4 separate regions of the Homo sapiens genome follow, and regions 2, 3 and 4 are each linked to region 1. Evidence: fine-mapped expression QTL. A gene starts in region 1. Each other region holds a variant in brackets. All regions are shown on one strand. Distances are between the middles of the regions.

Region 1 (7,936 bases):
TGTATCTCCAGGTATCACATATTTGTTCAATATTTCATTTAACACTTTTAAAGTCCCATGCACAAAATGAGTTACTTTGATTTTACAACCATGATAGCTGTATTCTTTGTAGATGCTCCATCAAGCTGAGGAAAATCATACCCTTTATAGTTGATAAAGGCTTTTTTTCAAAATTATGAATGGGTGTTGAATTTTGCCAAATTTTTTTTTGCATTGACTGAGATCATACGAATCATATGAATTTTCTTCTTTATTCTGTTTATGTAGTGAATGACATTGATTGATTTTCAAATGTTGAGCCAATTTTGCATTCCTCAAAAAAGAATCCCACCTGGTAATGCTATCTTGCTCTTTCAGATGTCGCTGGATTTGATTTGCCAATTTTGTTTTTGTTTTTGTTTTTTTGAGATGGAGTCTCACTCTGTCACCCAGGCTGGGTGCAGTGGCGCAATCTCAGCTCACTGCAACCTCCACCTCCCAGGTTCAAGCAATTCTCCTGTCTTACCCTCCTGAGTAGCTGGGATTAAAGGTGCCCACCACCTTGCCTGGCTAATTTTTGTATTTTTAGTAGAGATGGGGTTTCACCATGTTGGCCAGGCTGGTCTCAAACTCCTGACCTCAGGTGAGCCACCTGCCTCGGCCTCCCAAAGTGCTGGGATTACAGACATGAGTCATTACACCTGACCTTGATTGGCCAATATTTTGTTAAAATTTTTGCACCTATGTAAGAAATATAGGTGTGTGATTTTCTTTCCTTTTTATTTCTTGGTATCAGGATTATTCTGAATTATAAATTAAAAAGTGTTCTCTCTTCCTTTGTTCTTTCAAAAGAGTTTATATAAAATCAATATTACCTTTCTTAAATGATTGATAAACATTTACTAGTGAAGCCATCTTGCTCTGGAATTTTCTTTTTAGGACCTTAAAGATATGGGGTGATTCAAATGTTCTATTTCTTCCTGTGCCAGTTTTGGGAAGTTGTATTTTTCAAAGACTTTTTCCATTTAATGTAAATTATCGAAATGATCAGCATAAAGTTATTCATAATGTTTTCTTATTATATTTTCAATTTCTGTATATCTGTAGGGATCTTCCTCTTTTATGCTTGATATTTGTTATTCGTGTTTTTTTGTCCTGCTCAATCTCACTAGGAGTTTAGCAATTTTGTTAATATTTTCAAAGAACCAACTTGTAAGTTGGTTAATGTCTCATATTATTTTTTATTATTTTTTTCCTCCTATTCACTTCGAGTTTAATTCACTTTCTTATTCTAATGTCATAAGGTGGAAACTTAGATAATTGATTTCAAACCTTTTTTCTTTACTAAAATAAACTTTTAAAGCTATAAATTTCTCTTGAAGGACTGTTCTGACTGCATTCCACATATTTTGATGCAGTTTCATTATCATTCTGTATGCCGTGTTTTCTAACGTTCTTACAACCATGCCTGGCATAAAGTACTTAGTAAGTGTTCCCTCCTGTTAGCTCCAGTTTTTGTTTTTTTTTTTTTGAGATGGAGTCTTGCTCTGTCGCCCAGGCTGGAGTGCAGTGGTGCGATCACAGCTCACTGCAAGCTCCGCCTCCCGGGTTCACGCCATTCTCCTGCCTCAGCCTCCTGAGTAGCTGGGACTACAGGCGCCTGCCACCACGCCCAGCTAATTTTTTGTATTTTTTTTTAGTAGAGACAGGGTTTCACCGTGTTAGCCAGGATGGTCTCGATCTCCTGACCTCGTGATCCACCCGCCTCGGCCTCCCAAAGTGCTGATATTACAGGCTTGAGCCATCGCGCCCAGCCTAGCTCCAGTTTTTGTTTCTCTTGTTAACAAGTGAGAATGGGCCCCTTCAGAGCCTCTTTGCTGTTTCCACTGACTGAAATACTATTCCTTCATATAGGCCCAGAATTCTAATAAATTCCCATTCATTGTGCAGGTGTGACCTCAGACAGCGTTACCTCAAAGAAGCTCTCCCTGATGAACCAGACCAGGATGGTCCTCTCATGTACTAAGTTGAATAGTGACCACCCCCAAAAAATTCATGTCCACCCAGAACCCATGAATGTGACCTTATTTGGAAATAGGATCTTTGCAAATATAATCAAGTTAATATGAGATCATAAGATCACACTGGATGAGGGTGAGCCTTGAATCTAATATGGCTGGTGTCTTTATGAGAAGAAAGAAACTTGGAGACAGAGACACAGACACACAGAGATAATACCATGTGACAACAGGGGCAGAGACCAAAGTGATGCATCTACAAGCTGAGGAAGGCCAAGGATGGCCAGTAGCCACCAGAAGCTAGGAAGAGGCAAAGAAGGATCCTCCTCTAGATCTTTAGAGAGAGCACAGCCCTGCTGACACCTTCATTTCAGGCTTCTACCATCTAGAACTGGAAGACAATAAATTATCTTGCTTTAAGCCACCCAGTTTAGGGCAATTTGTCACTGCAGCTCTAGAATGTAATATGCCAAGTTACACGTTTCCATACTTTCCTATATTTTTCTTTCCTAGCTCTTATCAGACAATTATTACATATAAATTATCAGGAAATATGGATGGTGTGATAATACTTACTAGTCTGGCTTTTCTTCTCTCTCTCTCTGAGATGGAGTCTCACTCTGTTGCTCAGGCTGGAGTCCATTGGCGTGATCTCGGCTCACTGCAACCTCCACCTCCCGGGTTCAAGCAATTCTCCTGTCTCAGCCTCCTGAGTAGCTGGGATTACAGGCACAAAAAAGCCACTATGTCCAGCTAGTGTTTGTATTTTTAATAGAGATGGGGTTTCACCATGTTGGTCAGGCTGGTCTTGAACTCCTAATTTCAGGCAATCCACCTGCCTTGGACTCCCAAAGTGCTGGGATTACAGGCATGAGCCACCATGCCCGGCCTAGTCTGGCATTTTAGTAGAGCCCTCCTTAAGGAAGACTAACATAACCCCAACCAGTGTCTCCAATGGCAAAGATTTTGAAAGGCAGATAATTTCGAAGGAGACTGTCCTTAAAATCACAGTATGTCAGTGGCCAGCTTTAGCTTCTCAATGCTAGCCTTGGGTCACAGGGTTTTCTAGTGTGAAAATTATCCAAACGAGTAATTTCTTATAGCAACAGATTGTCAAAAAAAAGACACTGATGCGCAAGTCATGTGGGAGTCTGAAACATTGGTTCTGCTCTCCTCTGCCTCCAGGGGGTCTTGGCCAAGTCACTCAACCTCTCTGGGTTCCAGGCTCTTAACTGTAAAAGAAGGTGATTGGGGCTACACAGTAGAGTCCCTTTGGCTCTAACCTTCTGAGGCTTCATGGTTTCTTCCGTTAACAGTAGCTGAATCCAGGAAGAGGAGGTGACCCAGGCGGGTGCTGGACCAAGAAGGATTCTGTGTTAAGATGTAGAACTGCCAGTTCTGTCTATGCTTGTTTTACTTGATAAATGGAATGGAGTAGACGTTTCTAGGGCTCTTGTTTTTAAAAATCTTTTAAAGTGGCTGGATTGCTGGTCACTTCCTATCTCTGGGCCACAGTGCATTCACCTGTATACAAGGTGGAAGAAAGGATGGAACCCGGGATTCCCAAGGTCTCTTCCGGCTCTCAAGTGCAAAGTTCTGTGTCTTCAAAGCAGTTTATTGCTAAGCCAGAGAGCTAAGAGAGCTTAGCCTTGTACTAAGTGTAGGTCATGGGGTCAATCTCAGGAACACCCTTCGCTTTATTTCTTCTCATAACCATTGCGTGTGTTGGGGAGGGCTGGGGCAGTCTGCCTCCCCCAACATAGGCACTAACATATGCCATCGACGGGCAAGAATGAAATCCTGGCTCTACCTCTCACGAATCAGGTGGATCTCAAGAGAGACTGAATAAGTGTGAGCCTCCGTTTCCCCATCTGTGAAACAGGGAGAGTTACCGGCAAAGGTGTAAATGTCAAGAGTTGAGCAACAATGCCTAGTCCTTACCAGGTTTTCAAGCGCTATTTTCCATAACCGTTAGGAGCGCTAAGGAAAGATAAACTGCGGTGTCCTAAGTACGCTGAGGCTCGCTGACGACCAGACGAGCACCACGCCACAGTACTGGGTGCCTCCGTGCTCCCACGTCCACATTTCCCGTGCACAGCACACTGGCGTGGCCGCGCGGGTCCACGGAACAGCCCAGCGCTCGGACGCCAATCATCCCGCATCAGGCTCCGCCCCCCAGCGCTCAACGCGCCCCTCGGCGTGCGCGCTCCCGCCGCCAGCGGGCGCGCTCCGGGCGCAGGCGGTGACGTGTTGCCGGCGGGGGCCGGGCGGGGGTGCGGCTCCAGGAAAGGAGCGCGGCCTCCAGGAAGCCGGCTGGCCGTGATGCTGCCCACTGGTGGTCCCCCGCTCCCGGGGTCCCCGGCCGGCCAAGCAGGTGAGGTTGCCTTCCGAGCGTGGGTGAGGGGAGGGCGGGCGGCCGAAGGGGCCGGCGAGTGGGTTGGAGTGCGGGGGCCGGCGGCGCGGCGAGCGGGCCGCGGACGAGCCTCTCTGCCCCAGGCCCCCACAGCCGCCTGCTTAGCCCCGCGGACCGGTTCCCGCCTCCCCTGCCGCGCGGCCACATCCGAGCGCCCCGGGACCAACCCCTGTGAGCCCTGGCGGCCGGCGCGCTCCCCCAGCCCCTGGCAGGGGACACCTGGCGGTCGCGCGCCTCGGGTGACCGCTCGGGATCCCCCCCTCGAATGGGCGGAGCTTGACCGGGCAGCAGGGATGCTGCACCCGGGACCCAGCCGGCCCTGCCTGCCGCTTTAAATGATGACATTCGCTCGTCTTGTCGTTTTCGCTTTGCTTTGCTTTTGCCAGATTTCATGTTAGATTTCTTCTTGGAAAAATGGAGCTTATTGGGCAGTAAAGTGATGATGCACAGCATTGTTTCTGAACTTGAGTAATGCGCGGACCCCTTTTAAAGGAACAATTCTCTCATGGTCTAGAATGTGTCCCAGAACCCTTAGGGTGCTTCAGACCCCAGTTAGATGAACCCTAGTGCAGAGCGTTTTCAGAGAACACTTATCACGAAGGAAACTAAAGAGATCCTTTATGATTCAGGAACTTTCAGGCTAGAAGGTAAACTAGAGGTAATGGAAGAATTCTAAATTAGACACTCAAAGCCCAGGCTAATTTCGCATTGCAGTCTTTGTTGTCTCCTTTTTGTGATGAAAATACCAAATTATCCAGCTTTAGAGAGGCCTAAAAGAGTTATATTATTTGTGTTACCATATATTTGATGTTTTTGTATCAGGTTTGTTAATTCTGTTTGACATAGTAGAATTATAAAATGGAACACTAATTCGTGTAGTTGAATCGTTTATTTCTCTGTTTACCTTAACAGAGGTCTTGTAGTTGTTGCATGTTGAATCTATGGCTTATATTCTTCTACCTCTAATAGGAAATGTGTGACTGAGGCCCTTGAGGATATAGTCTAGGAAGGAGACAAAAATGAACATTTATCTAAGGATTTATATTCTCTACGTATTTACTCAGCATGTTTATTTAAAATAGACTACTCATGAATAAAGAGACGATTCCAATTGTAAGAAAACATCAGGATGTGTAACAGGTTAAATCTTGACAAAGAAACATGTTGACTTGTGCCTTGAAAGAAGTGTAGTCTTGAGAGGAGGACACGGTGGTGGCTCGGAGGAAGTGCTGTTAGTAAATGCCTGAGGCAGGCATGGAGACAGCTTGTGTGGGAGAGAAGAGAGAGACCTGCTGCACTGGAGCTGAGAGATGGTATCTGGGACTGATGAGAGGATAGGTTGGTGAGATAAGGTGGACCAGTTGATGGATAAAAGGTTTCAGGTGCCACACAGGAAACTTGGTGTTGATCCATGGCCTTCCAGAAGGTTCTTAGCTGATCATATTTTGAAGGCCGTGTTTTACAAAGAGTTGCTTGTAAAGTGTGGCGTGCACAGTGAAGGCAGAAGGTGGGTGAGTCGCCAAGAGATCTGTCTTGAGGTAGTGGTGCCTGCTGTGGTCATCTTAGATATGAGGGATATCTGAGGAAGAATCGACTGGCTTGGAGAATGATAGAAGATTGTCAACACCGGATGTGGGAATCAAAGCTGAGAACCAGGTAATCCAGGTCAATGGGGATTGGTGGTACCCGTCTTAGACCTGGAGAATTTGGAGGGTGGTATTAGAGTTTGCATTAGAAGATTTCAACCCTAGAGTTGGACTAGTTGAGCTTGCAGTAACAGGGCTTCAATGAGCTTGGAACGTGGAACTGGAACTTGAGGAAAGTCAGAGTTAATTCAGGAAAAGTGACCAGAAAAAGACTACTTAAAATGGGAACCAGAATTTTGCAAATTAATAGAGGGAGGAAGAGGTTAAGATTTTATATTGAAAAATAAAATTAAAATGTGTAAGATAAATATTGAACATACAGATCATAAATGCAACTACATACATATCTTCTTAAAGAATGAATCAAGTTGTCTTCATGTATCTTTTGTCACTACTGAGTAACGGTGCCACCCGGCAGCCTCCACATCAGCCTCTCACTCTCAGAAAGACAGTTGTTTCTTGCAAAACGCTGCCGGAATGGTTGAGAGCATCTTTAATTTTTCCAGGTTCTCTTGAATCCTTTGATATTCAAATCATTCTTTTCTGAAGTACCCTTCCCTGTGGTACCTTTGCTTATTCAGAAGCTGAGCTCTCCCAGAGGCTGACTTCTCTGTGATTTTGTTTGCCTGTGATTTGAGTTCACTAACATCTGTTTCCTTGCATCTTGTGTTTTTCCACCAGAGGAACCATTTCCCTTTGTGGTTGATTTGCATTGTTTTCGTCGTTATCTGTAGAACTGTCAGTGAGAGACTGACAAAGACATTGACACCTGACTGTAGGCTTTATTCCAATAATGTTCAGCCAAGTAGGGCCCCACTAGCTGAAATCATGAGAATTAATGCATCTCTCTGGTGATAGGTCTAACACAATTTAGGCTTTTTTAAAACATGTCAGTTTTATGTGGTATTACTGAATTTGCCTCCCAGTGCCCTGGTGCGAAGATTCTTAGCTAGAAGGACAATTGGAGTTTACATTTGAAGATCAAATTACCATTTAACTCTTAGGCAATAATCCATTGTACTTTTGTCCTGAGTTAAAATTACAGTGCTTCAGCAGTTATAAGCTGTCCTATTTTCTCTGCTTTTAAACACAAGCTTTGTAACTTAAAATATCTGTTTGTCCTTTTGATCAAAATCATCACATATCTCAAAAAAAAAAAATTCCTGAGACAAACCTCAGATGACACAAAGTTTCCTAAGTGCGCTGTGATCATTCTCTCGGTCACCTTCCTCTTCGAAGTGTGTTCTTTCTCACCCCATCTAGAATTGACCTCCCACCTCTAGGAATCTTTTCCTGCTAAAGCTAGCCTTCTCTGTGCTCTTCTCTGAGCTCTTATAACAAGAATCCCAGTAATTTAACATTGCCTTTAATTAGTATCTTGACTATTTTCTGGGCATTAGTATTTTCTCTGTAGCAATCTGCAAACTCCATGAAATTTGGAGTTGGGTTTGTTACTCCTCATGTCACCTTCGTAGTCCTGACTTTCTTCCTCAAGGACCAGTTTGCCTTTAACCATGACTTTAAGCTGTTAAATAAAACTGTCTTTTCTTTGGTTCTCAGTTCAGCTATCACACAACTATCACTGATGTTTTTTTTAAATGTTCAGATTGGAATTCCTGTGTCCTGATAGGCTTTTAAGATAGGCTTTCTCAATATATTCGGAAAAGTATTTGATCCTGGAAACAAGGTTTCATCCGTCAAAGGTAGCTTGTTAAAAATTGTTATTTCCTCTGATGATAAAATTAATATATGTCCTTTGAAAAATATAGGCAAGCCTAGGGAAGAAAATAAAGATGATACCTGATCTCATTGCCCAGAAATAACTAAGCACTGTTAATATTTTGGTTTCTTTCCTAACATTTTATCCCCCCATGCATGGG
Region 2 (7,936 bases), 28 kb after region 1:
AGCACTTTCTGTAATTTCAGTGTAGTCAATGAGCGTCAATGATATTTTGAGGCATTGATGATACCATAATGGGACATGAAAGATCTGTGATTTTCGTTAGTAACAAAGTTGCAGGTGCTGCCAACGCTAATGATAGTTTGTTGTCTGCATTCATGGTCAAAGAAATGCTACATCTCAGTCAGCGCTTGGGTAGAACAAAGATGTGCGTTTTTCCCCATTCACGTTTGCAGATCTGCTGTCAGTTGACCTGTGCTAAGAACCTGAGTTACCTGATAGATGAGACATTTGCTCTTCCCCCCACCCCCTCCATTTAATTGAGCATTTCTCAGCAACCCTTTTAACTGGGTTAACTGTAAAAATGGTGAGTCATGGGTGTTACTGATCACAAGCATGCAGTTTGTTTACATGTTGACTTCTTTGTATCAGCGAAACCTTCACGGCTCTTCTAAATTCCTCTGATTTTGGTTGCCCAAATTATAATGACCGACTTCAGAGTATACTTTCACATGTTATCTCACTGATACTTAGAAGCCCCCTGCATTGGGCTGTTCCGTTCTCCATTTCAGAGGTAGGGTTGCAGTTCCTAAAGTGCAGCTCTGGGGCCTGGGTCCCGCCGTCCCCCTGTGCACCCTTTCCACCCCTTTCCTTGCTTACTGTCCTGTTTGTTGTTTGGTGTTCACATGGGCAGAGACATCCAGCAGGAGGCCTTCCGAGCCAGTCACACCCACTGGCGGGGCGTTTCCTTTGTCTACAACCACTACCTGTTCTCTGGCTGCTTCCTGGTGGTGCTGCTGGCCATCCTGCTGTACCTGCTGCGGCTGCGGCGCATCCACAGGCGCACTCCCCGGAGCAGCTCGGCCGCCGCCCTCTGGATGGAGGAGGGCCTTCCCGCCCAGAATGCCCCGGGGACCTTGTGATCCAGCTCACAGCTCCACGAAGACTCAAAAGGAAAAGCCATTTTTGCCTCAGGGTTTCTCCTCTTTATTTTCCTGTGGTTTTGTTTTTTCTTTCCCTTTTTTGTTCCTCCAAACAAAAACAAAATGCAGGCCGAGCGCGGTGGCTCACGCCTGTAATCCCAGCACTTTGGGAGGCCGAGGCGGGCGGATCATGAGGTCAGGAGATCGAGACCATCCTGGCTAACACGGTGAAACCCCGTCTCTACTAAAAATACAAAAAATTAGCTGGGTGTGGTGGCGGGCGCCCGTAGTCCCAGCTACTCAGGAGGCTGAGGCAGGAGAATGGCATGAACCTGGGAGGCAGAGCTTGCAGTGAGCCGAGATCACACCACTGCACTCCAGCCTGGGCGACAGAGTGAGACTCCGTCTCAAAAAAAAAAAATGCATTGTTTATAAGCCCTGCTGTCTAGAAGTATTGCGTTTAGCCATTTTGAGTACAGCATTAAATTGAGGAGTGGGGAAGAGGGAAATTCACTTGATTTTTGCTGCACAGGATATCTGCCAAAAATAAATGAGATTTCTGGGGTTTCTCTAAGGAATGTTAAATTTAAACACATGCACTTTGATACTGGAGGGAGGTGGAAAGATGCATTCTGTCAGTGGAGAGGGGACTGAATAGTGATGCTTTCATAGAACCAAAAAACTTACTGCCTGAAATGATAATCCTCTTTTTTCTCTATCTTGAAAGCTCTAACCTGAAGAGGGTGATTTTTTTTTTTATTTATTGTTCAGGTCTGTTACTGTATATGTTTTCTTTGCAAATTTAAATTTTTTAAACCATTTATATCCAAAACAGAGAAACATGGGCACCAGGAGATAACCATTTATAAAAGTGATAGTGAACTATCGACTACAGCTTTGTGCGAGTGTGTGAAAAATCCCAAGAAACCAGCGTGAGGGGAGGCAATGCTGGTTCTTTAAAAACACACACTTCAGAATTTACTGGTACATTTTATTTAGAAAAATCCTCGTTACTGTTATCTTTTCCTGACCGCAGGTAATTACGCTCCTTATTCCATATTTCAGTGGCATTAGAACACTGTGGTTTTGAAAGAATTGGAAATTCCTAGTTTCACCAGTTTCGGTTTTATTGGAACTAGAGCACATGCCCACTTCTTGCTCAGTATTCCTCAGTGTTTCTGCTTAATCGTGCCTCAGTTTCTTCCAGCTTCCAATTGGTGTTTCCCCCACCCCCCTTAATTAAAAGTCATCTCAGCTTTTAATCGTACTGGGAGACCCCATGCACAGCCTGCCGAGTCCTCTTCCTAACCGCATTGACTGAGGCTGTTGCTGGCAGCACCACTGTAAATCCAGAAGGGAAGAGTCTGCATCCAATACAGGAAATAAATTCACATTTTGAAGGAAAAAATTCGACAATTTAAGCCAAAATCTAAAAAGGACAATTGGATTGGCATATGTGAGATTGGTGTTTTTTCACCTATTTATTTAGTTGAGAAGTTTGGGGAATTCTCGTACAGTTTTTTTAGGTGGAGTTTGTTTTGTGCGAGTGTCTGTGTGTGCTGTTCCCTAACTCCAGAACAGTTAAATTCCTGTAGTTGGTAGCAGATTAGTACCCAGAAGTGGGGTTGTTGCTATAACAGATAACTGAGGATATTATAAAAGTGGCTTTGGAACTAGGTACTGGGCAGAGGCTGGGAGAGTTTGGAGAAACAGGAGAGAAAAGGCCTGTATTGCCATGAACTGAGCATTAGGGGCAGTTCTGCTGAGGGATCAGAAGAGAAGACCAAGGGAATTCTGTCCCAGTTGTGGCTCAAACTGCCTCAGGTGCAGCTTAACCTGCGTCTCTGGAAGGTAAAATGCATCTGATCCTTGAGGCAAGAGCTGTGGGGGCATGGCTCCCTCACCTGGATTTCAAAGCGTGTTACCAGCAGCCTGGGGACCCAGGCTCTGCCTCTGGATTTACCTGCATCGTATTTGCGCTTCGTGGTCAAAGTTGTTAAGAAAGGGGTGAGCTTCTGGCTACCTAATAAGTTGGTCTTGGCCACCTGCCTGCGACACTTCCTGGAGGAGCCATGGATTATTGGTGGAGGCTGCAGGGAGCTGGCGATGGAGCCACTGGTGTCAGCAGCAGAGAGGGAAGAAAGGAAAGGAAGGGGCCACAAATGGTTGAAGTGGGCAGGTGGGCACCCAGGGAGTTAGGGGACCCCGCCTTCCAGCTCTGGGCATAGAAGAGTTAGTCACATACCTGAGGATCCTGAAACAAGGGCTGAGAAAACCTCATTGCTCCAGCTGAGAGGTAGTAGTGGATTTGCCATTTTTAAACAGTTGCCTAAGAAAAAA[C/T]GTTGAAGAATATGCAGCAGACACTATATGTGGCCTGTAAAGCCTAGAATATTTACTAAAATATTTACAGAAAAAGTTTGCTGGTCCTTGTGAGAACAATGCAGTTCAAAAAAGGATACAGACAGAAGCATCCTCTTAAATCAGGAATGTAGTTTCCATTTGTGGGCACGAAAAGATGGACAAGAGAAGTAACCAAACTTCAATCTTAAAATATTTGTTGCACCAGAATTTCACTTCGGATTTTTCCGTCTAGATTATTTTCAAGATGAGTTTTGAAACAAACCAAGAAACCTGCCCCTCACCCAAAATTGTTTAAAAAGAGACCACTCAAGGGAGTTCATTATGCCGTATGGAGATGTCTGCAGTCGCAGCAAATCACATTCCAGAGAAGGTCTCGCGTAGGTGAAGACAGCCAGGTGCTTTCTCTAAGAGATACAGGGTGGGTGAGAGACAAGCCAGGGAGGATCTTAATTCAAGAGAAGAATTCATACCAAGAGCTGACCAAGAAGGCAGTAAATTCTGTGTACTTGTAGCAGAAGAAATTGGACTAGGAACTTGCCCAAAGCTTTATCAAAGAAAAGCATTGTGTTCAATCTTGGTAGAAACATGCCAGCAATAAGTGCTTATGTTCCATAGCCATATCATGGGCTTCTCACTTTTAAACCTCCTCCAGGGGATGTTCTCAGACATTTCACAATCCCTCTGGGGACATTACAGTAGAAGAGAAACACATGGAACTGTACCAGTGCTTTTTGCCCATGTTCATCCTAAGCTCCGGCTTTAGGCAGTGCTTTCTGACCTGGGCGGAGTGAAGACGCTGCTGGTGGCTGAGGCCAGTAACATGGGGCCCCTGCCCAGCCACCCTGAAGGCTGGGTAGGTCCCTCTTTTCACCACCAGTTTTCCACATCTGTGTACTCTAGATTAACAAACTCTGGATAAACAGATATTTACATTTTAAACTCAGGCCTACACAGAGTAGTTTTCCTTATAAGGAGCATGTATCACTTAGCAAGAAACTAAAAATGGCAAATGAGTTTTTCATCCTTTAAGAAAAAAATCAGCTTTAGAATTCTCTGCGGTCAGTTGTGTGCAATGCAACAAAACTACCTTTCAGTAAATTACTTAGTTATTTATTTCAGTGTTTTGTTTCTTTTGATACTAAGTTTCCCTTTCAATAATGAATGATGTGACCAACCAAGGAGAATTTGTTTGTTCTGTACTAAAATTATATTTTACAGTTAGGAATTATAAAAAGCAAGGGAGCATCTTTAAATGTTTTTTGTTTAAGCGATGTCTTCCATCCAAAGTAAGAATAATACTCTCGGAAGGTCCTTTTGGTGTCATGTCACTTGCTGTATGTGGCAGCCTTACAGTGCCACACTTGGGTACTGAAAAATCAATAAAACGAAAGTTCATCATCCCATGGCCCGTAGACTGTGTGGGCTTGCTTCCTTGTCATCTTTGAATCTTCTTACTCATTAGAATGATGAGTTGAACTTGAGTCCAAATTCAGTGAAATACATTGTCTGAGTCTGACGCACACTCTTTGCATGTGTTGTGTTGGGTGTGCATACAGTGAAGCACAATTGTGTGGGGTTGTGGAGAGGGCGTCCACACTCTCTGCAGCTCAGAAAGCAGATATTTCACAAGTAGTGACCAACCCACGACGTTAAGCCATTCACCAACAATAATTGCCACTCTGAGATGACTGTTTATAAGGTCACCATTTTAAGTACCTACTTGTATATAGACAAGGAAAAGTAATAAAATTAACCAATTTTTATGTATTTAATAGTAACAGCAAATGCTGACTTTATGTTACACTGTTTTGCAGTTCGATCTAAGCTTAGAACCTTTGGCTTACTTCCAGAAAATTATGACTGTCATTATTAATGTTACGTGTTACCAATATGGAGGATGACATTAGACGCTCAGCATGTTTCTCAGCCGTTGGAGAATACATAGATGTTCTCCTGGAGCAGGAAGGTGGGCCTGAGCCATAACCTGAAAATAGATGATAGAGACAGATGGGAAGGGAAGGGGACCAGCTGTTAGGACCAACAAAAATAAAGGCCTGAGACATGCCGGAGAGGAGAGGGAAGCGCAAAAACAAAATGAGAGAACAGAGCCAGCAAAGTGAGCTCAAGGGAGGTCCTCAAGCCATTGATCGCTAGGAAAACAGGACACAGCATTAAGATAGAACTGTCGTAAATAATTTTTGAGGCAGTGCAATGACTATAGGGCTTTTTGCCTGACTTTAAATACGTTAAAATATCTAAGATGTTAAAAGACATCTAAATTTTTATTCCACTTGGTGGAAGAGAAGTCAGTGCCTATTTCCAACACTAACCATGTTGACAGGTCTGAAAAGCCATGGTTCTGTGTTTTTGTTTTCAGTCTGTTTCCATTTGTCCTATGAATTGGCATGTGCCCTGTGGGTTTTTTTGGTTTTTTTGAGATCCGGAAATGCTAATGGTTTGCACAGAGGGGGTCGTGAGGTGCAGGTCACCTCTGTCAGAGTCACAGTGTCTTCTTTTGGAAACGTCATGAAAAGACAAAGGAGTGCCCGGCTAATCCCAAAGCACGCCTTGGCAGAGTGGATCTGCCTGGAGCATCCATCCGTGGCAGCATGAAAGGCAATCCTGTGAGAGTCTTCCTGGCCCCACCTCGTCTGGGAGCATGTGGGCCTGTGATCCCACCTCCTCCTAACAAAAGAAGAGTGTGTCTGTTGATGTGTTTTATTTTGCTTTTAGCCAGGCTAGTCCCCCTGCCCTTGCGCAGTCCAGCCTCTTTCTATTAATAGATCTATTAAGGTTGACTGAGACCTGCTGCAGGGGACGCTAGGGGCACTTTGGCCTTCGATCTTTGCCTTTCACCCTTGACACTGTTTGGCAGGTGAACGACATCCGGGCTCCAGACTTCATGGCCACTTCAACATTTCTGTCAACAGCCTGTGTCTGTTTCATGTAAGAGGCCCAAACAAGAAAATCAAGGCTTAAGAAGGATTTCTGCCTTGAGTAAAGGACTGAAACCTCCTCACAGAACACGATGGTGACAGGCACAAAAGACAGACTTCTTGTTTAAGTAGGTGAACTCCAAAGACGAGAGAAAAGGAGTTTTTTTCCTCCCGTTCAACCAGTCATCAAATAAACATCTCAGGCATCTGGTGTTTTGTCAAGGGATTGGGATTCCAGTGGCCCCTGTGTGACTGGAAGGGGAAAGGTTTGTCGGTGGCAACGCCATCGAAACACAAAGGAGCAGCTTTAGAATCCCCAGTGTGGGTCTTCTCTTGTGTTATTTCTACAACATCCTTGTGCCAGCTGTTCTTGCTGTTCTCTCAGGCTTCTAATTGGGAGTGTGAATACTACCTTTCACCCTTTTTGCCTTCATGAGAATCAGAGTTTGAAGTGGACAGTTCTGAAAATATTAATCATCTTTTTTTTTTTTTTTTTTTTTTTTTGAGACGGAGTCTCACTCTGTCGCCCAGGCTGGAGTGCAGTGGCGCGATCTCGGCTCACTGCAAGCTCCGCCTCCCGGGTTCACGCCATTCTCCTGCCTCAGCCTCCCTAGTAGCTGGGACTACAGGCGCCTGCCACCACACCCAGCTAATTTTTTGTATTTTTAATAGAGACGGGGTTTCACCGTGTTAGCCAGGATGGTCTCGATCTCCTGACCTCGTGATCCACCTGCCTCGGCCTCCCAAAGTGCTAGGATTACAGGCGTGAGTCACCGCACCGGGCCTAATCACCTTATTCTTGCCTGTCATTACACAAGCCTTAAACTCCAGGGACCAGACTTAGCACTTTCTTTTCCTAAGATTGCTTTTTCTCCCACTTGGCCCAAGCTTTAATACCCAGATTTTAGACTCAAAACACTTAAAACATTTGGTGGGCTCTCCTCAGCCTTGTAAAGTTCTTTGATACTGGTCATGGCAGCACAAGAGAATTTTCTGGAAGTTCCTGGCTGTTTAATGTTCAAATTACACGTTTAAATTCTCTCCCACCTCCCGTGGCCCTGTTTTCCATCAGTGTATCTATTTCTGGCCCAAATGTCCTTGAACATGGACCATGACAGGTCCTGTGTTTACTTTCCATGTTTCTACATTTATAATCCAGTAAAGAAGACACCGAGTAGTACATAGTATTTTGTAAATATTTGTAAACTAATGAAAATCTGGTTTCTTTCACAAATCACCTCTTTAGGTTTCTAAAATTTATGAAAGAAATCTTTTAAAATCTATTCTAGGCCGGGTGCAGTGGCTTACGCCTGTAATCCCAGCACTTTGAGAGGCCAAGGCAGGCGGATCACGAGGTCAGGAGTTTGAGACCAGCCTGGCCAACATAGTGAAACCCTGTCTCTACTAAAAATACAAAAATTAGCTGGGCAAGGTGGCGGGCGCCTGTAGTCCCAGCTACTCAGGAGGCTGAGGCAGGAGAATCACTTGAACCCAGGAGGCGGAGTTTGCAGTGAGCCAAGATTGTGCTACTGCACTCCAGTCTAGGCGACAGAGCAAGACTCTGTCTAAAATATATATATATTTTATTCTCAATTTTTGCTGTTCTTTCCAGATGTGCAGAGTTGTGTGTGGTTTTAAAACCATATGCAATGTGCCGTGAAGGGCGGGATGGAACCCAGGCCTCTGAGTCTCAGTTCTCTGTTCACTTCCCTCCACCAGAGT
Region 3 (7,936 bases), 38 kb after region 1:
AGACGGGGTAATTGATAAAGGAAAGAGGTTTAATTGACTCACAGATCAGCATGGCTGGGGAGGCGTCAGGAAACTTACAATCACGGCGGAAGGTGAAGAGGGGGAACCAAGACACCTTGGCAGGTGGCAGGAGAGAGAATTAATGCAGAAGGAACTACCAAACACTTATAAAACCATCAGATCTCCTGAGAACACTATCACGAGAACAGCACAGGGGAAACCACTCTCATGATTCAATTACCCCCACCTGGTCTCCCCCTTGACATGTGGGGATTGTGGGGATTATAATTCAAGATGAGATTTGGGTGGGGACACAAAGCCTAACCATGTCAGTCCCCAAAATGACACCATGAGGAGGTGCTTTGATTACCGTCACTTTACAGGTGGAGAAACAGATGTGGAAAAGGCACACAACTTGCCCAAGGTACCGAACTAGCCAGTGGTGGGGCTGGGATTTGAACGCAGGCAGCCTGGCTCCATTCTGTACTCTAGAGCTGCACTGTCCAGTATGACGGCCACTAGCCACATGAAACAGGCCAATCTAAACTGAGATGAGCTGTAAGTATAAAATATACACCAGATTTCAGGCCGGGCACAGTGGCTCATGCCTGTAATCCCAGCACTTTGGGAGGCCAAGGCGGGCGGATCACGAGGTCAGGAGATTGAGACCATCCTGGCAAATATGGTGAAACCCCGTCTGTACTAAAAATACAAAAATTAGCCAGGCATGGTGGTGGGCGCCTGTAGTCCCAGCTACTCGGGAGGCTGAGGCAGGAGAATCGCTTGAACCCGGGAGGCAGAGGTTGCAGTAAGCTGAGATCTCCCCACTGCACTGCAGCCTGGCAACAGAGTGAGACTCTGTCTCAAAAAAATATATATCTATATCTGTCTGTCTATATATAGATATAGACACACCAGATTTCAAAGACTTCATGTAAAAAAAATATGAAATATCTCAGTTTCTTTACATTGGGTACATGAGACATGACAATATTTTAGGTATATTGAGTTAAATAAAATATTATTGGATTAACATCACCTGTTTCCTTCTACCTTTTTAATGTGTACACTAGACAACTCTAAATTGCCTGTGTGGCTCACAGTATATTTCCGTCAGACGGAGCTGCTCTCGGTACTTGCTTCTCAAAGTGTGGTCCTTGAATCAGCAGCATCAACATCACTGAAGCCTGACGGAAGTGCTGGATCTCAGGCTTGGTCTCAGACCTCTTGAATCAAATTCTTCATTTTGCCAGCCTTCCAGGTCACTCATAATGCATGCTCACATTTGAAAAATGCCGCTTCAGACCAGGCAGCAATTTTTTTCTCTAAAGGGCCAGATAATAAACATTTTAACTTTGCAGGCCACATGACTTCTGTCCAAAACTCACCTCACTGCTTCTGTAGTATGAAATGAGCCAGAATATGCACGTGAATACGGATTCCACTGTAACCTGCACGGACCTAGGGGGACTGAACAAAGCGGGGCAAACACGGGAATAAAAGACAAGAGACAAAAGAGTATATTTTGAAGAAGGGGTCAGGGGGTACCTTGCCCCTAGTGGACAAGGGCCCTGAGCTTTATACAGCCCTCCTTATTTATTAGGCAAAAGAGATAGTGAGAAGCGGGGTGGAAGAAGGGGTCAGCTGCTCAGTCTAGAGCAGGCTTGCAAGACTGCATTCCTCGAACAACAGGCTAAATGTTGCAGTAGATAACCTCAGCGCCAGGGAGTGATTGCCTCCAGCAAACCTTCTGTCGGCAGGAGCAGTCGTCAGTTTTCTCACATCCTGCATTCATGATAAACAGTTTGCTGTTGGATCATATAGCCTCCAGTGGAATGCTGCGTTGGTCACATCCCATGGGCCTTCGGCTCCCTGCATATCCCCCTTTCTGTTTATGAATTAATTGAAAAAATGTAAGGCCAGGCTGGGCAGCTCTCATTCTCCGATTGGCAGTCCATCCGATTTTACAGACTATAAACAGAAGACAGAGACGAAACAACATTATTCCAAGAACTACATATAAGATGTTAATGTGGTGCCTTAGATAGGTCCAAGGGTTGAGGCTCTCCAGGCCTTGCTGGAATTTGGTCCCGTCTTCTAAAGAAGGCTGAAATTCTTGAGTTTGCCTATTTAAATCAAGAATTTTGTTTTGTAATTCACCAATATCAAAGGTGATGTTGGATGTGAACGCTCCCTGCAAATGGGCTTTCACAAGGTCCCACGGATACTCACTTTGGTTGTATTCTAAGTTGGTTACACAAATATGAGTGTGATTAAAATGACAGCGCAATTACTGCTGCAACTGCAAGCTTTGTACTTGTGCCCCTAACCACAGAACCGTGGATTTCAGCATTGCCACTTCAGTTTGTAGCTCAGTGTTAATTTTATTCTGAAGTCGCCACGCTTGGTCAGCTGTGCGCGTCCAGTTCTCCACGTACTGAGCTATTTGAATAGAATTATGCAAAGCTACAGAAGATATCACAACAGAAGTTACTAGCATGACCAAGTAAACAGTAGCAAAAATTATCATGCCTAAGGCTCTACGGGCACGATGAGTCAGCTGAGTTAGAAGTTTCACAAAATGCAAAGCAGGTGTGGCAGCCCAAGGCTCAGACAGATTAACAGGAATCCCTAGCCCAGGGATACCACCTAAAATCATCACAGTAGAGATATTATGTGTTTGCAATGTGCTATGATTAGTGCAGTGATATAACTGGCAAGATTTACAGGTCAATTGGGTATTGTTTACCTGGAGCTGGTCCTTCTTAGCTGCCAAAAAGACATAAGGATTAAAAACACAAACTGTAAATTGAGTGATGATATTCTTTACAAATGTAACCTTAGAACTGTGTTGTGACTCCGGTCGGCCTTCTCTCCGTCTTTGCATTCAGGCTCAGCTGACTCATGGCTCATACCGGGACCGGGTCCATGGTTGGCCACCCTGGGTTCCTCCAGTCTCCCATTCCATGGTCGCACGCACCTTGAGGGCACCCACACAGTTCATCCATCTCCTGCAAAAACACAAGTATACCCTCTTCCCCACATTAGTAAATCCACTGGACCTTTCCATTGGCCTTCTTCCGGGGATTTCCGTAACACTTTCGGATAAACTTTCCTCTTTTCCTCTAACACTTGCCAATGTCTTTCTGCTGGAGTCTTTACCTTCCATACCAGGAGTCAGAAAATTTAAAGTAAGGCTAAATGTAGTTTTGATTGAGGTGGTAGTTGGTCTCCTATACCCCCTTTTTGTTTTTTCAATATGCGTTGTAATGTTTGATGTGCCTGCTCTATAATGCCTTGTCCTCTAGGATTATAAGGAATTCCTGTTTTATGGGTTATAGCCCAAAGCTGTAAGAAATTTTGAAAAGCATGACTAGTATAAGTGGGTCCATTGTCAGTTTTTAATTGTTTAGGTATCCCCATGTGAGCAAATGATGACAGACAATGTGGCCATACATGACCAGCTGTCTCACCTGTTTGGCATGTAGCATGCAGCATATGAGAATAAGTGTCTATAGTCACATGAACGTAGCTAAGCTTACCAAAGGTTGCTATGTGTGCAACATCCATTTGCCAAATTTCATTTGGAGCCAAACTTCGTGGGTTACAGCCTTCTACAGGTATAGTTCCAGGGACATGCTGGCAAGTAGGACAGGCTTGTATTATAGCCCTAGCTTGGCTATGAGATAAATGGAACATGCGAGTAAGGGTGGAAGTATTTTGGTGCAGAAGTGCATGAGATGCTTGAGCTTGCCGAAACACAGAACCAATCAGTTTGTCTGCTTTCTCATTACCTAGAGATAGGGGTCCAGGAAGTTGTGTGTGAGAGCAAATATGAGAAATATGAAAAGGAGCTGCATGAGAACGAATAACTTGTTGAAGTCTTAAAAATAAATTAAGCGGCTGGGCATGGTGGCTCACACCTGTAATCCCAGCACTTTGGGAGGCCGAGGCAGGTGGATCATGAGGTCAGGAGATC[G/A]AGACCATCCTGGCTAACATGGTGAAACCCCTTCTGTACTAAAAATACAAAAAATTAGCCGGGCGTGGTGGCGGGCGCCTGTAGTCCCAGCTACTCGGGAGGTTGAGGCAGAAGAATTGCGTGAACCCGGGAGGCGGAGCTTGCAGTGAGCTGAGATTGTGCCACTGCACTATATCCTAGGCAACAGAGCAAAACTCCATCTCAAAAATAAATTAATTAATTAACTAATTAAGCAGTTCTGGGTCTAGTGTACTTTTAATTGTGGCAGTTTCTATGCGACTGGCTACATTTACAACATAAGCTGAATCACAGACAAAGTTAATAGGATCTGAGGCTGTGAGCTGTAAAACCTGAATGACTGCAATTAGCTGTAAGCGTTAAGCTGAAACACCAGAGGTATCTAGCTTCTCCTGTGTTAGGGGCACAACTGTGAGAGCATAAGTGTCTGCTATTGAGGCCACCCAGTTTGTGGTGCTTTGTCATGAGGGCCCTAGGAGGCGAATATACTTACCAAGAGCAGGGGACACTTGAGCTCAATAGGAAAGGCTGTGGAGCTTTCAGAGGGGACCGTACAGGAAAACGCGGTGGGCAGAATTAACAGCACGAAGGCAGGGCCTACAATGTGGAAAAGCACAGACACAGTTGTGCAGGCTGGAAGTCAAGTTGAGGAGTCCGCAGGGCGACGCTCCCTCTGAGACCTTGCAGAATCCTTCCTTGCCCCTTCCTGGTTTCTGGCGGTGACCAGCGATCCTCAATGGTCCTTGGCCTGCAGCTGTGTCACTTTTATCTCTGCCTCGGTCTTCACGTGGCATTTTCCTCTTCTTATAAGGACACCTGTCATATTGGATAGGGACCTGCCCTGATGACTTCATCTTAAATTTACTGCGTTTGCAAAGACTCAGTTTCAAACAACGTCACATTCAGAGCTCCCAGAGTTAGGACTTCAACATAACTTTTGGGGGAACACACGTCAACCCCCAACTGGAAGTCTTGCTTGACTGAGTTCAGGTCCTTCTCTCTGCTCGCATGGCATCTTTTTATCGAATTTGTCATTGGAAGTGTCTGTTTATATACTTGTCACCCTGCCCTCTGTCCCACCTCCAAGACTATGAGCTTTCCTTTTTTTTCTTTAGAGGCAGAGTCTTGCTCTGTCACCCAGGCTGGAGTGCAGTGATGCAATCATAGCTCACTGCAGCCTCAAACTCCCGGCTCAATCAATTCTCCCGCCTAGGTCTCTCAAGTGGCTGGGACTACAGGTGCATGCCACCACACCCAGCTAAGTTCTTCATTTTTTGTAAAGACAGGGTCTCATTATGTTGCCCAGGCTGGTCTCTAACTCCTGGGCTCAAGCAGTTCTCCCACCTTGGCCTCTCAAAGCACAGAGATTATAGGAGTGAGCCACCGTGCCCGGCCTGCTGAGTTCTTTAAGAACAGGGACCCCACGTAATCTTTATTTCCGTGTCCCCATGGCCCAGCGCCCTGGATCATTTGTAGTAAGCATCTGATGAAAGGAGCTTGCACTCAGAAAGCCCTGGCTGTGGCCTGGAGTCAGAAGGCCCAGCCAAGCCCTGCCTCTGTCACTTCAAATGTGGCCTTCAGCAAGCCATGTCACTTCTCTGGACTTCAGTTTCCAATCCTATAAAATGTGAGTAAGAACTCCTGTCATACCTGCCTCACAGAGAGGTCGAGGGGCTCCAAGATGATGCGTGTGATGAAAGCCCTTCGGAGCCACTGTCTGTAAAATGGAGAGAGTTGTGACATTCATTCTTTTCCAGCCCAGGACTTTATCTCCTGCTCCATCTTTCCTGACTCAGGCCTCAACTGCAGCCTCGGTCATCCCGTCTGGAAGGTTTGCCTCAGAGCCCAGCCAAGGTCTGGGCAGGTCTGGGCATCCCATGATTGGAGTTGGAGGTCACCTGCAGAGAAACAATGTCACCACCCAGTGGCTGCGCAACCCAGTTTAGTTCCAACCTGAACTGCCCTGCTGAAAAGACAATGTGACCTTTGCAGCATAATCACTGCCAAAAGTAGTCATTTTATAGCAGAAATACAGAGATACTGGGTGAACTCTACAAAGTGGAAGAGACAAGAAAGGTGAAGTTTTCCTCCACCTCTCATTGCAGCTCCACTGTTGGAGGGGCCACAGGGATGGGGTAATGGGACCAATTTATTCCCGTGGATAGTAGTTCCCCTGGGTGTCTACATCCAGGGCTCTTCCTCTGGTGTTTGTCTACTCTGGGTGTTTACACCCTGCCAGAGCAGAGGCTGGCTTAAGACCTGTGGGTGGGCAGATCCCAGGGTCCCTCACTCTCACACAGGCAGGTTTTAGCCCATGTTGGTGAGGCGTGAGTCACAGGCTGGAGAGGAATTCACTTCAAGTCAGTGGTTTGGGATGGCAGGGATATTCATTTCCTGATTCTCCTTGCATTGCGCCTCTCTTAATAATTACACCTAATAATGACGGAACAATGTTCTCTTGTTAGAGAACATTCACATTTAATTTATTTGGCTTCCTTAACAGCTTTGTGAGATATGTAGGGGATATAAAATTATATCTCAATCTATGAAAAAGAACACCAAGATTCAGGGAAAATGGGACAATGCCATTTTTACAGTGAGGAGGAGGCTTTGTTATCTAAGTCAATGCCCCATTTCCTGAGGGGAAATCTAAGACTGGAATCCAAGTTGCCTGATGTCCCTGGAGCTCTCCCCAATGATAAGTCTTGGTCAGTTTGGAGGAAGTGGCTCCAGCTGCTCCTGACATATCACCAGCTCTAAAAAAATGAAATTAAAAGGGCAAATAAGGTCTTAGTTTTATTTTAAAAATAGTTTGATCCAGTGGACCCCCTGAAAGGGTCTTGGTAACTCCCAGTGGTCCCCAACCATACTTCTAGAACAACCGCTGGCCCAGAGCAGGAAGGTAAACTGTGGAGGGGGTGAACAGAGAAGCAAAGTCTCCAGTGTCCCAGTGTTGGTCACAGCCAGCTGTGGCTGGAAGGCTGGGAAGGGAACACCACTCATATGTTTGTCTCAGTCAGCTCAGCTGCTATGACAAAACACCAGACTGGGTGGCATAAACAACAGACATTTCTCATGGTTCTGGAGGCTGGGAAGTTCAAGGTCAAGATGCTGGCCAATTTGGTTCCTGGTTCATAGACCCATCTTTTCACTGGACCTTTCCTGGCAAACAGAAAGAGTGATTTCTCTCTCTGCCTCTTCATAGAAAGCCACTAATAAAATAAAATCCTGAGGGCCCTTCCTCATGACCTCATCTAACCCTAATTACCTCCCCAAGACCTCATGTCCAAATAACATCTCATTGGGAGTTACCGCTTTAATGCGAATTTTGAAGGGACATAATTCAGTCCAGAGACGTGTTCGTCCTATTTTGCTGCTAACGCTATTGAGGTCTGGGGGCTCTTTTTCCTGAACCATGGCTTCCTCTGAACATCTCATCCTCTGCCCACCATGGGCACCTCCTGGAGTGCAGGGGGCTGGCGGGCAGAGCAGAATTTGTACCTTTCCCGCCTCCCCTGTGGTGCAGACCTGGGTCTGGGCTCACAGGAGGCTCATAAATACCAGTGACTGGAACAGAGCAGTCAGGCTGTGTCCTCAGCCAACCCTGAGCGCCCTGAGCAGGCATCTCATATGCTTTCTGGGAGACCAGTGAGGCTGTGCTGGGCTGCAGCCCGGAGCGTGGGCCTTGCCAAGCGCCAGCCCATCTCTCTGCAGAAAAGCTCCCATTTTTGTCTGGTGCTCCCCCTTCCCTCTTTCAGCTGCATCTTTGAGACAAGGTGGTCAGAGCTGGCAGAAGCCAGGTGTCTGGGAATGAGATTTGAATCAGCTTTTTTTCCCCTCTGCATGACTGTGCTAGGTGAAAGTCTCCCTTTTCTCTCAGCAGGAGACTTTCCATGTGGAGGGGGCAAAAGGGAAGTTAGGAGAAGCAGCAAAATGAGA
Region 4 (7,936 bases), 76 kb before region 1:
TCAGGTGGGGAGACACACAGGTGTGAACTACAGAAAGACGTGGCTACTCCCTGTCTTTCTGCAGGCTTGCAGGCTCTGCGGCAGGCACCACGAAGAATGGGCTGGATCTTCCACTCCAATCAGCTAAACTTACCTCTCCCGCAGGATCCCAGTGTGACAAAAAACACCATGACCTAGCACCTGCACTGAGCTTTACACTTTGAAAACTGTGTTCCCTGCAAACCTGCCTGTATTTTCCAACTAGATGCACTAAAACGACCTGCAAGGGAGGCAGAATCGGCACTGCTACTCTTCTCTATTTCCGATGAGAAAACTGCAGCCCACCAGGAAGCTGCTGGGCTTGGAGGCTGAAGAGCAGGACCAGCCATGGCTGACGTGCAGAATGAACTGCAGAAGCTCCTCCATCAAATACTTACTGAGCACCTACTGTGTTTCTGGCAATGGGAATACAGTGGTGAACAGAAGAGCATACATCCCTGCCCACTTGGGGCCTACATTCTGATGAGGGAAGAGAGACCATAAACAATACAAATAATACTATAAATATAAGTAAAATATGTAAACAATATAAATAAACGATGGTGTGTGTTACGAAGTAACAACTGCTGGGGAGAAAAACAAAGCAGCAATGGGCAATAGGGAAATGTGAGGCAGGGGAGAGTAATCTCATTTTTTTTTTTTTTTTTTTGAGACAGGGTCTTGCTCTGTTGCCCAGGCTGGAGTGCGGTGGTCCAATCATAGCTCACTACAGCCTCGACCTCCCAGGCTCAAGCAATTCCCCCACCTCAGCCTCCCAAGAAGCTGAGACCACTGGCGCATACCACTATACCAAGCTAATGTTTTTATTTTTTGTACCTATGGGGTCTCGCTATGTTGCCCAGGCTGGTCTCCAACTCCTGGCCTCAAGTGATCCTCCCACCTCGGCCTCTCAAGGTATTGGGATTACAGGCGTGAGCCACTGAGCTCGGCCTAAACTCACTTTTAACTTGGGCAGTCTGGGATCTCAAGGAAGAGGAGACATCCAGGTCCCTGAACCAAGGCAGTAAGTAGCTGTGGGGAGGGAGAGAAGGAAACACATTCAAGAAGTACTACAGATACAGCCACAGGCAGGCCTTCCCTGCATACAGGGCAGCAGTGGGAGAAAAGCTGATGACCATCCCAGGGTGCAGAAGGAGGCAGAAGGGCAGGCCCGAGGGGAAGCCAGGACCACCATTCTGGCCACACTGAGTCTGAGGAGGCTCCGAGGCAACTGGAGATTCAGCTCCAGAAAGTCTGGGCCCAAGATAGTGATCTGGGAGCCATCAGGTCCCAGGAGGAAACTGAGGCATGTGTGCTGGGGAAAATGAGGTGGAAGGGCACATTCCTGAGGAGAAGCCATGCCCAAAGAGGAAAACTGAGGATCGCAGGGCCAACCCCCTCTCGGAGGTGCCCCTGGCAGGAACAGAGGCAGCAGGGTGGGCCAGGAAGATGATGGGTAGCCAGAAGTCTCTGTGAGGCTGCGGCTGGGCAGTGCAAAAGCCAGGAAGCAGGGGTGGCAGTGAGGAAGTAGAGACCAGTGTCAATAGTTCTTTCAGAACATGTGTTGTTTTAAGGAGGAAAAAAAGGGGCAACAGTTTGTTTATGGGAAGAAACATTGGGGGTGCATGTGAGGTCAAGGTGAGAAGTCTGGGGTTTATTTAAGACAGGATGGGCTTGGATCTGTAGAAACACTTTTGAGAAAAACTCAATGGAGCAGGAAGCCTAAAGATCCTGGAACCGAGTCACTCAAGAGTGAGGGGACAAAAATGACATCACCATCACCATTTATTGACAACGTACGCACCACGCACTGTGGCAAGAACTTTACATATGTTGCCTCATTTAATTCTTACAACAACCCTATAAAATAGCTCTTGGTATTTGATATGGTTTGGCTGCGTCCCCACTCAAATCTCATCTTGAATAGTGGCTCCCATAATTCCCACGTGTTATGGGAGGGACCCAGTGGGAGGTAATTGAATCATGGGGGCAGTTTCCCCCACACTGTTCTCATGGTAGTGAATAAGTCTCACGAGATCTGATGATTTTATATGGGGAAAACCCCTTTCACTGGGTTCTGTCCTCTTTCTTGTCTGTTACCATGTAAGATGTGCCTTTTGCCTTCTGCCATGATTGTGAGGCCTTCCCAGCCACGTGGAACTGTGGGTCCATTAAACCTCTTTCTGTATAAATTACGCAGTCTCAGGTATGTCTTTATCAGCAGCTTGAAAACAGACTAATACAGTATTCATATCCCCACTTTGCAGAGAAGGAACCTGAGCTTAGAGAGGTTAGGTAATGTGCCCAGGTGTGCAGCCAGTATTCAAATCCTGGTGTCAAGGTGGTTTGTATACATCTCCCTTCTCTGCCACATTGATATACCTTAAAGGAATGAAGACACCTGTTCCCTTATAGTGGGGGTAGAAGGCAAGAGAGTTTGGAAGGACAGTGACAGGAAGATGGGTTTGATTGAGGTCCTGGTTTCCCTATGACATGGAAGCAAGATGCCAGGCTGAGGCTGACAACAATAGGGTGGGGAGCTAAGGGGCAACAGGACCCTCGTGAAGGATGCAAGCAGCTGCCCAGACATGTGGAGCTGAGGCCAGGGAGCATGCGCATTGGAGGCAGTGTGAATGTCCCCTGAAGGGCTTCGCTGCCCAAGGGACAGATGGGCTGTCCAGGACCCAGGTGGGGCAAGCCAGGGTTGGAAGAACCAAAGGCAGAGAAACTAAAGGCCCCAGCAGCTGCAGCAGTCAATCTTGGGGTCCAGGCTATAATAATCTGGATTTAAGATCTCAGGAAGATTCTGAGTTAGGTCAAGGGACCATGGAGGTGAAGGCCATTGACTCAGAGGTGTAAGGAATGGAGTGATTTGGACTTGAGTCGGGTGGGGACGAAGAGGGGCCATCCTCAGGGTGAGGACGGGATCTGTGGAGGTGAAGTCTGTGCATCAGATGCCAGAGTCCTCAGGGAATGAGAGAAAGTGATGGCAATCATGCTGATGATGATGAAGATAAAGATGAGAGCAGACATCAGAGAGTATCAACTGTTCTGTGCGTGTACCAGGCATGTGAAGTGCAGCGAGGGCTTAACCCTCCTCACAACCACCCTGGGAGATCGGTACCATCTCTTCTTCTTTTTACAGATAGGGAAATAGCACAGAAAGGTTAAGAAACTTGCCCAAGGTCACACCTAACTGGGAAATGGGACCCGGTCCAGGGATTTGGACTCAAGGGTCCATGCTCCCAACCCTTAGCAAGAGGAGCTGGATTTCCATCAGGAGGGGGAAGTGAAAGAAACATTCGGTAAAGAGGGGAAGATGTAAGGGAGCTTGTTAACAAGGAACTTCCACAAGGCCCACTGGAAAAATGAGAGAAGTGGGAAAGAAGCAATGGAAAGCTGGGTCAGGAAAGAGAAAGCAGGAAGAAAATCAGGATCCCCATTTGACAAGTAAGGACATGAAGAAGCTAAGTGTCCTGCCCAACCAGTAAGTCAAAGACTGGAATTTGAACCCCAAGATAGTTCTCTAAGGGTGGGAAATCCATCTCAGTAGGAACTTGAGGGAAGGTTGAGGGAACTTTAGGGAAGGTTTCCAGTTCAACAAAAAGAAAGAGGCTGGGCATGGTGGTTCATGCCTGTAATCCCAGCA[C/G]TTTGGAAGGCCAAGGTGGGAGGATCGCTTGAGCCCAGGAGTTCAAGACCAGTCTGGGCAACAAATTGAGGCCCCCATCTCTACAAAAAAATACAAAAAAATTAGCCAGGCATGGTGGCATGTGCCTGTAGTCCCAGCTACTCAGGAGTCTGAGCTGGGAGGATCACTCAAGCCCTGGGAGGTCAAGGCTGCAGTGAGCTGCAATCACACCACTACTCTCCAACCTGGGTGACAGACCGAGACCCTGTCTCAAAAAAACAAAAAAAAAGAGAGAGAGAGGGAGAAAAAAAAGAGAAAGAGATTGGATATACCCCTCCTATGACAAACATCAGACACAACATTCAAGGTGGGCATGGGAGTGGCAAAGCCATGCATCCTGGCATGGTCCAGCCAACACCATGATCACAGGGGTATGTCTGTGGCCAGCATGGATGGGACATGACAGCCGGTATTTCGGATTAAAAACAAAAACAAAAACACAAATTCTTTGACAAGAAAAGGTTCCGTACTAGTGGAGACAGGAAAAGAGCCAAAAAGCTCTGGGGTTCAAGAAAGATGCTGAAGGCTTCCACACCAGCAGGTGAGTTCATCCGATGAGTCAGAAGAAGGAAACCCCTGAAGTCAGAGAGAGTCAGAAGCCCAAGACTAAAAAACAGAGAAAGTGGAACTGATTCCCCAAGACTGGTCACTGCTGCAAGACAGGACAAAACTCATCTCTAATGAGATGGCCACATGCAGCTGAAACGTGCCCAAGTGGAAGCCAGGAAAAGGTTTGGGAAGCACATTCCTCCCTTCCAGGTGACACGCACATCCCCCACCCCAGGTGCACACCCCTGTATAGTTTAAGCAAAGCAGCTGATTAAATCCTCCCATTCAACCCCAAATACCTCTCCCTACTAAAAAGCTGAGGCCCCCTTTGCTGTTCACAGTACTCTTGGGCACGCGCCTCCAAACCACGCTCCAGCCTGCCCCTCCCCAATTTAGGGCAGAGAAAAGTGGATGAGGTTCTCACACTCCTCAGGGTAGGCCTGAGGGGTACAGGCCATGGCTGCCTGGGGGTTCATGAAACAAGGAACAGGACTGCAGCTCACAAATACCCCTTTTTTGATTCCTCGTTCCAAATTCGCCTTTTAAGAAAATCACCTCTCATCAAAGGAGAGAAAAGAAGGGAGCAGGGGGATGTGAGGGAGAGGAGACAAGAAGGGAGAGAGAAAAATCATTATAGTTTTGTCCCAGGAACTAGAGCAATTTGGGATTTCACGCCCTTCTGAAGCTGAATGGCATGGACCGAACTGCACTTTGTTTGGAAAGCAATGAAGTGGGTGGGAGGGGACTCTGGCAGCTGCCTGCACTGCCCCCCAGCACCCTTCCTACCAGTCTGCCTGCAGCCAGGAGAAAACTCAGAAGAGGAGAAGTCAGAAGTTGAGGTAATGCTCTGCTGAGCTGGGCAGGCTGGCTGTGCACACCATAAGGTCAGCCAGGAGGCTCCTAGAGGGAACGCTCCGTGGTGCACCAACCTGGGAAGGAGGGCTCATCCTAGGAGAGTCACAGGCAGGGTTTCCCCCAACAGCAAAGCAAAAGAAGGGTTGTGAAAGGGTCAGCGGAAGTCCCCCGGCTTCAAATCTTTCCTGTTTCCTTCTGCCCCTGCTTTCCCCAGGCGGGACTCGGCATGGTCTCCGAGTGGTGTGCCTAATCTGGTTGGAATTTCCTCCTCCACCCACCTGGCATGCTCCTCAAGTCTTGAGCTCTCCTGATCAGACCAGGGGTTCTTGTATCCACCCCAAGTGCCCCTTGCCACTCTGGAACACCAGAAAGAGGCTCATGGAAAACCTGCCACCAGACCCCGCCTAGACAGGAGTAAGTCATTGCCACCATTTGGTGAGAGCCCTGCAGAGACCCTATACTCCCTCCCTGGGTATCACTTTGCTGCTCACTGTCATCGCAGGGGCAGCCAAAGGTCCCAGTAGACTGGCCCTTTATGGATGAATGAGTGCTCACATCCCACCATGGGAGGACCAAGGGAAAGAAGAAGACACAGGAAGCAGCAGGAAAGTTGCCAAAGGTCTTCCAAATACCCATTTCATAATCTCAGTGTTGCCTGCTGGGGCTCCAGAGATATTTTCTCAGGTTCAGTGGTTTTCATATTTGTTTGACCACAACTCCCAGCCAGAAGTACATTGTACACGTCTGTAAAATGCACTCAGAGACACACACACAACCCAAACAGAATTTCAACATTTCTCCCACTGCATGCCAGGCACACCCGTATTTTTACACTCTCACTAATAACTTCTTTTATTTATTTATTTATTTTTAAATGCAGAGTCCACTAATGGGTCATGGCCCACCATGTAAAAAACACTAGTTATTAAAGTGACACTGGGGATGTGAGGTGTGACCTCACGAAGAAGCAAATTTAATATTATAATGGGAAGCATCCACCAGGCCGACTTTGCACTTAGAACTGCAAAATAAGTAGCATCAGGTTCAGGGTTGAAAGTGACCAGCACAGAGCTCCACAGTCCACATTACCTAGGATAGAAAAAAGCCAGCCGATTCAACATTCTTATTTGTCATTACAAGATCAAAGTTAAAAATGGCGCCTTTCAAAACTGGAGAAAGCTTTCTCTCTTTCAAGATCCGATTTACATAGATTTGTTTTCAGCTGTAATAATTCTTTTGATATTTCAAGTAACATAAAAGAGGACGATGGGTGTTGTGTGTTCAGAGAAACGAGGCATGGGTTAAAAATGTGGAGAGGGACTGAGCAGGTCCACTGTCCCCACTTTATAGTGACAAAACTAAGGCACAGAACAGTGCCCGAGGCATGAAGCAAGTGAGAGCAGGGCTTGAAGCCCAACCCGGGTTTCTTGACTCAGTTACTCCCGGTCTTCGCCATCATCCAAAATACTTAAGAGGAACACAGGTGTGGTCTCCCCCAAGCCTTTCCATGATGGAGGATGCACCCCTGACTCCTCATGCTTGGCAGACAACTGTGCTGATGTTGGCAGACCTTGGCACTCAGTGGCAGCCTCAAAACCAACCCTGCACACTTCAGCATGGAAGGGCCCCTAAGGGTCAGTTATAATCCCAGAACCTAGAAGACTTCACTGATTAGCTAACCCACGCCTTGTTTTACAGACTTGTCTAGGAAAACCAGACCGGCTCCTTCTACCATTCACACCATGTTAACCTGTCCACAGGTGAAAACTGCTATGGAAAGTAATACTAAGTATACAGGTGACATCTGAACCAAAACATATCAACATGTATGGGGCAGGGAGAAACTAAACACAGATCACACAATTTAAACGTGTGAGAAACGCCTCTTGAGAGTGTCAAAGGGTGCTCAGAAGGCACAACTAATTATTTCTAATCCTAAAAATAAGCTAAAATGATGCTCTAAAGTGAACTCACTGTGGGGTTCCCGAATAGAACATTCATCTCAAGACACCAGTAGGACTAGGGCCTGCTCAGATAACACCTCCCTGCTCCTAACTTTCCCCAGACTCTGCCCAGGGCAGTTGAGACAACAGCTTCAATCATGGAGAATTTTATTACATTTGAGGGATTCTTTCCCATACAAATGCCACCTGGTATCAGTCCAGTGTCTTTCCTGGAGATGAGAACCATTCCTCTAACTCCCCACTGGGACACTGGAGGGACATATGGGTGATGGCTCAGGCTTAGGTCCAGCAGCACCTTGGAAGCCCATGTCTTTCCTCACTGGACTTCTGCCTGTCCAGACACTGACTGCTGGCTCCAAGCGAGCTCCCCGGAGCCGGGAAAACCCTCTGAGTTATACTTTCTGGCCTTCATACCTGCTCATGCAGGACCAGCATCAGCAACAAGATAAAGCTGCTGGGGGTGCCTCTGTGGGACCTGCCTTGCAAAATAATTGCCACCTAGAGAGGCCTCCGAATCCTCCAAAGCACACTGCAGCTGCAGCCAGAGGATAGGAGGTGGTGTAGGAGCCTGGGCAAGGTAATCGGTTCGCCTCTCTGCGCCTCAGTTTCTTCATCTGTTAACCCCCAGGGCTGTTGCATGAATTAGGCGAGTTATGCCTATAAAAGTGCAACGTGTAACAGTCAATACTGGCATTACTTCCTGCACTACTCTATCCTGGCCCTGGGGTGTTCTGGGCAGGCTGACAGAGGGCAGGTCTCAGTCTACCAGGCAAAACGCACCTAGTAACGCTGCCTCTTTACAGAAATGCAGTTAAAACTACCGGGGCAAGTGACAGACAGGGTTTAAAGGAAACTGAGTGCC

Evidence for each region. PIP is the estimated chance that this variant, and not a neighbour inherited with it, causes the effect.
Region 2: its variant is the best candidate, but not a certain one, in a credible set for the expression of ENTPD4 in whole blood (TOPMed, PIP 0.75).
Region 3: its variant is the best candidate, but not a certain one, in a credible set for the expression of ENTPD4 in blood mononuclear cells (TOPMed, PIP 0.75).
Region 4: its variant is the best candidate, but not a certain one, in a credible set for the expression of ENTPD4 in whole blood (TOPMed, PIP 0.56).

What each region holds. Positions count from the first base shown.
Region 1 is chr8:23,453,992-23,461,927 of GRCh38, reverse strand. ENTPD4 (ectonucleoside triphosphate diphosphohydrolase 4) reads left to right here and starts at 4,281. Exons shown (of 13, transcript NM_004901.5): 1 at 4,281-4,371. ENTPD4-DT (ENTPD4 divergent transcript) reads right to left here and starts at 4,157. Exons shown (of 5, transcript NR_186533.1): 1 at 3,939-4,157; 2 at 2,574-2,714. RefSeq lists a silencer at 4,068-4,747 and an enhancer at 6,613-7,114.
Region 2 is chr8:23,425,907-23,433,842 of GRCh38, reverse strand. ENTPD4 (ectonucleoside triphosphate diphosphohydrolase 4) reads left to right here. Exons shown (of 13, transcript NM_004901.5): 13 at 689-4,681. The coding sequence ends at 917. Among named protein-coding and RNA genes, the nearest start is that of LOXL2, 26 kb to the right of the region's middle. The variant C/T (reference allele first, on the strand shown) is at 3,258.
Region 3 is chr8:23,416,058-23,423,993 of GRCh38, reverse strand. No RefSeq gene overlaps it. Among named protein-coding and RNA genes, the nearest start is that of LOXL2, 16 kb to the right of the region's middle. RefSeq lists enhancers at 1,272-1,772, 7,605-7,936. The variant G/A (reference allele first, on the strand shown) is at 3,980.
Region 4 is chr8:23,529,948-23,537,883 of GRCh38, reverse strand. The region is part of intron 1 of SLC25A37 (solute carrier family 25 member 37); the gene reads right to left. Among named protein-coding and RNA genes, the nearest start is that of SLC25A37, 5.0 kb to the right of the region's middle. RefSeq lists an enhancer at 7,825-7,894. The variant C/G (reference allele first, on the strand shown) is at 3,668.